2 separate regions of the Homo sapiens genome follow, and region 2 is linked to region 1. A link means that fine-mapping ties the variant in region 1 to the expression of a gene that starts in the linked region. Tissue or cell type: whole blood. Region 1 holds a variant in brackets; the other region holds the start of a gene. All regions are shown on one strand. Distances are between the middles of the regions.

Evidence for each region. PIP is the estimated chance that this variant, and not a neighbour inherited with it, causes the effect.
Region 2: it holds the start of ARHGEF18, and the variant in region 1 is fine-mapped to the expression of ARHGEF18 in whole blood (TOPMed, PIP above 0.99).

What each region holds. Positions count from the first base shown.
Region 1 is chr19:7,449,631-7,452,386 of GRCh38, reverse strand. ARHGEF18 (Rho/Rac guanine nucleotide exchange factor 18) reads right to left here. Exons shown (of 29, transcript NM_001367823.1): 16 at 1,121-1,238. Among named protein-coding and RNA genes, the nearest start is that of PEX11G, 38 kb to the left of the region's middle. RefSeq lists enhancers at 1,040-1,582, 1,583-2,127. The variant G/A (reference allele first, on the strand shown) is at 1,098.
Region 2 is chr19:7,347,688-7,350,303 of GRCh38, reverse strand. It overlaps ARHGEF18 (Rho/Rac guanine nucleotide exchange factor 18), which reads right to left and starts at 1,367. Exons shown (of 29, transcript NM_001367823.1): 1 at 1,063-1,367.

The DNA of each region.
Region 1 (2,756 bases):
AGTGGGGAAATTTGTTCATCCTCTCACGGCCTGAATTCAGTGGTGAAGCGAGAGCTGTGGTCAGCACGGCCCTGGCTGCCAGAACTCCTGGCTGGACTGCCCGCCCTTCTCTGCCTCCCTGGCTCCAGACACATCCCTTGCTCAGCCCTGGTCATGTGACACAGAGGCCATCTCTGGGTCTGTTTGAACCACCAGGGCACCGTCTCCATCCATTCATCCTTTCCACAGACACTAACACTGAGGGCCTGCAGTGGCCCAGCCTGTGCTAGGGGCTGGGGGAAACAGTTGGCAAATGAGACCTGGCTCCTGCTTTCATGGTGCTGACCACCCCATCTTTCTTGTATCAAAAGCCCCAGGCCAGGCTGGGCGTGGCATGGTGGCTCATGCCTGTAATCCCAGCACTTTGGGAGGCCAACATGGGTGGATCATTTGAGGCCAGGAGTTTAAGACCAGCCTGATCAACATGGTGAATCCCCATCTCTACTACAAATATCAAAGTTAGCTAGGTGTGGTGGTGGGCGCCTGTAGTCCTAGCTACTCGGGAGTCTGAGGCAGGAGAATCACTTGAACCTGGGAAGTGGAGGTTGCAGTGAGCCGAGATCGTGCCACTGTACTCCAGCCTGAGGGACACAGCAAGACTGTCTCAAAACAAAACAAAACAAAAAAACCCAGGCCAGATGTGATGGCTCATGCCTGTAATCCCAGCACTTTGGAGAGACCGAGGTGGGAGGATCACTTGAACCCAGGAGTTCCACACCAGCCTGGGTAACACAGCGAGACCCCATCTCTAAAAAAAAAATTAAAAAAAATTAACTGTGTGTAGTGGCGTATGCCTGTAGTCCCAGGTGCTTGGGAGGCTGAGGTAGAAGGACCACTTGAGCCCCAGAGTTGGAGGCTGTGCAATGAGCTATGATTTCACCACTACACTCCAGCCTGGGCAACAGAGTGAGACTCTGTCTCTTAAAAAAAAAAAAAAAAAAAAGGAAGGAACCCCAGCACCCAGCAAACTGGATTTCAAAGGGAATTTATTCAGTTTGCTGCTCAAATAGGGAGTGGGTACACGGAGAGAGCCCTGTGCTGCAGCAGCACGGGCGGGC[G/A]GGGCAGTGGGGAGAAGGCCTACCTTCCGTGTTCTGGATGATGCGCTCCACCAGCACTGGGTATTTGGTTATGCGTTGTGTAACCAGGAGAATGCACTCCTGCACGCCAAGCCGCCGCACGATGGAGAAGTTGCCAATTTTCTAGGAAACAGAAAGCAAGATCCTGTATTAACATCTCAGAAACGGACAGCAAGATCCTGTATTAACATCTCAGAAACGGACAGCAAGATCCCGCATTAACATCTCGGAAATGGACAGCAAGATCCCATATTAACATCTCGGAAATGGACAGCAAGATCCTGCATTAACATCTCGGAAACGGACAGCAAGATCCCGCATTAACATCTCGGAAACGGACAGCAAGATCCTGCATTAACATCTCAGAAAGGTACAGCAAGACCCCGCATTAACATCTCGGAAACGGACAGCAAGACGCCGCATTAACATCTCGGAAACGGACAGCAAGACCCCGTATTAACATCTCGGAAACGGAAAGCAAGATCCCGCATTAACACCGTGGAAACGGACAGCAAGATCCCGCATTAACATCTCGGAAACGGAAAGCAAGATCTTGCATTAACATCTCGGAAACGGACAGCAAGATCCCGCATTAACATCTCGGAAATGGACAGCAAGATCCCGTATTAACATCTTGGAAATGGAAATGGAAAGCAAGATCCCATATTAATGTCTTGGAAACAGAAAGCAAGATCGACATTCACACCTCGGAAATGGAAACAGAAAGCAAGATCCTGTATTAACATCTCGGAAATGGACAGCAAGATCCCGTATTAACATCTCGGAAACGGAAACGGAAAGCAAGATCCTGTATTAACATCTCGGAAACGGAAACGGAAAGCAAGATCCCGCATTAACATCTTGGAAACGGACAGCAAGATCCCGTATTAACATCTCAGAAACGGACAGCAAGATCCCGCATTAACATCTTGGAAATGGACAGCAAGATCCTGTATTAACGTCTTGGAAATGGAAACAGAAAGCAAGATCCCATATTAACATCTCGGAAATGGACAGCAAGAGCCTGTATTAACATCTCAGAAACAGAAAGCGAGATACCGCATTAACAGCTCGGAAATGGACAGCAAGATTGCGTATTAACATCTCGGAAATGGACAGCAAGATCCTGCATTAACATCTCGGTTTCTGCCCAATTTGTCAACAATCGGCTGCCAAGGCTGGGGGCTCCTTCCTTTCTCAGCTCACCAGGACCTTTCCTTTGCCACTTTGGAGGAGACAGACACCAGATACCTGAACGCAGGGATCACCTGCTGTATATACAAAGGCCACCAAAGGACAGATGTGGTGGTTCATGCCTGTAATCTCAGCACTTTGGGAGGCCAAGGTGGAAGGAATGCTTGAGACCAGGAGTTTGAGACCAGCCTGGGCAACACAGCAAGACCCCATCTCTACAAAAAATTAAAATATTAGCTGGGCATGGTGGCACACTCCTGTAGTCCCAGCTATTCAGGAAGCAGAGACAGGAGGTTTTGCTTGAGCCCAGGAGTTTGAGGCTGCAGTGAGCCATGATTCTTCCATTGCACTCCAGCCTGGGCCACAGAGCAAGACCCTGACTCTAAAAAAATAAAATAAATGAGAACCAGCCAGGGGGTTATTATGGAAATCATCTGTCAAGCTGTC
Region 2 (2,616 bases), 100 kb after region 1:
TCTCTGGCCCCAGCTGTCCACTCTAGCTCAATTCACTCCCTCCTGGTTCTGGGGCCACCTTCCTAGACCTCAGGGTGCCTGAAGCCTGCCCTGCAGCATTGGGGGCTGGCAGGAAACAACAGACTGGGTGTGCCCAGCAGAAACCGCAGCCTTCCTCCCCCACCCCTCCCAGTCCCAGGCAGGCGGTGGTGCAGGAGGTCCCCCTAAGAAGGGGCCACGAGAGGAGACAGGGGATGTCTCCCAAGGGGGAGAACCCTCACCTGGAGGAAGGCTGCCTGGGTGGAGGGATGTGCTCTCTGGATGATTTCAGATCAGGACAAGACCCTTCTCAGGGCTGGTTGTCAGCCATCAGCCTTAAGTGTGAGTTTGTTTTGACAGTGGATTCAGAATCTGCAACAGGGAGGTTCTTGGGGGGCCCGGAATCTGCAGTTTAAGATGCAAAGGGCACCTGAGCCTTTGCCCCAGCTCCCCCATTCATTCTCTGTCTCCTGTCTCCACGCAGGAGGGCCTTGGCTACAAGGAGCTCTATCGTCCTTTCTTTGCTTTTCTTTTTCTTTTCTTTGTTTTGAGACTGAGAGGCTCACTTCAACCTCTACCTCCCGGGTTCAAGCCATTCTCCTGCCTCAGCCTCCCGAGTAGCTGAGATTACAGCTGCCCGCCACCACGCCTGGCTAATTTTTGTATTTTTAGTAGAGACGGGGTTTCACCATGTTGGCCGGGCTGGTCTCCAACTCTTGACCTCAAGTGATCCGCCCTCCTCAGCCTCCCAAAGTGCTAGGATTACAGGTGTGAGCCACCGCGCCCGGCCTCCACCCTCCTTTCTTACCTAGCAGCCCCTCAAGGATCCCCGTCCCCTGGGGTGACCTCTTATGACCACAGATCTCTGCACAATGAACGCAAGGGTCAAACAGCTTCCCCCACCCACTCAGGAAGCAAGTTGACTGCAAGGGGGAGAGAAACAGTGATGTATGTCTGCTCGCTGTCCCCCTAGACTTCCCAGACCCCACTGCCACTCTGTCCCGATGGGTCCATCTCTCTCCACTTCCCAGGATAAGTACTTACCAGATAGAGCTCAGTTCTTCAACCTGCAGGCACCTAGCCTGGCTAACAGCTCCTGCAGCTCCCATGACCTACGGCCAGCGTTTCGAGCTGGCCCAAGGGAACCGCTGGCTGGGTAGAGCCTGGGATAACCACAGAATGACCCAATAGCACCTCGACTTCCTCTTTCTCAACTGCCTGCCTGCATGCTTGCCACTCTGCTCCCAGCTGCAGGCCAATCTAGGGGCCTAAAAAGAGCCCAGAGGATGGGGGTTCTGGAGGCAGAGAGCCCTGCTCCCACCCCTCAGCCCTGCGCATGCAGGTGTCTTGAGGAGGAGGGGTGGGGAGCTGGAGGGAGGCCCAGCGTCCTCAACCCCCACCCCAGCAGCTTCCTGTGGAACCAACTGCTGAAGAGGAACAGGGTGTGGGGGCCTCACCCAGGCACATGGGTGTATAGACAGCAACATATAGGGACGTGCAGGTCATGTGTATCCGTAGAGACTCAGGCACCCAGACACACACCAGCATGGTGGGTACACACAGAGAGACAGAAACACACGTGGCTACATTGTTACATGGGTACCTGGAAGCTGGCGGAACAACATGGTGTGCTGGTAACGTTTAACAACCACCTCTCCGATTTGTAGCCATTGCCAATTCTCCTGGTGTAAATACCCCCAGCATGGCCGATTTCACCTACCAGTGTGATGTCACCGAGTGTGGAGTTGATAGGAAATGCTCAGATTTGGCTTTTTTTAGAAAACAACAACAACAACAACAAAAAACTGTTTATTTTATTTTTAGAGATAGGGTCTCATTCTGTCATCCAGTCTGGAGTGCAGTGGAAAAATCATAGCTCACTGCAGCCTCAATCTCTTGGGCTCAAGTGATCCTTCTGCTTCAGCCTCCTGAGTAGTTGGGATTACAGGCACATGCCACCATGCCTGGCTAAGTTTTTTGTTTACAGATAATTTATGTATAATTTATATATACTTTATATATAATTATATATGGATTATATATAGACTTATATATAATTTATATATAATTTTTTATATATAATTTTTCTTTTGAGACAGGCTCTCACTCTGTCATCCAGGCTGGAGTGCAGTGGGGGTGATTTTGGTTCATTGCAACCTCCATCCCCTGGGCTCAAGTGATCCTCCCACCTCCGCCTCCTGAGTAGCTGGGACCACAGGCACACATCACCACGCCTGGCTATTTTTTTTTGGTTTGTATTTTTAGTACAGACAGGGTCTCACCATATTGCCCAGGCTGGTCTCGAACTCCTGGGCTCAAGCAATCCTCCCACCTTGGCCTCCCAAAGTGCTGGGATTAGAGGCACGAGACATGGCGCCCAGCCTAAGTTAATTTTTTTTTTTTGTAGAGACAGGGATTTTATTATGTTTCCCAGGCTGGTCTCAAACTCCTGGGCTCAAGCAGTCCACCCGCCTTGGCCTCCCAAAGTGCTGGGATTACAGGCATGAGCCATGATGCTCCACTAAACTTGGCTCTTGGGCTGGCTTCAGCCTGTCACTGGAGTGAGTACTCTACAAAAAATTTAAAACTTCGCCACAT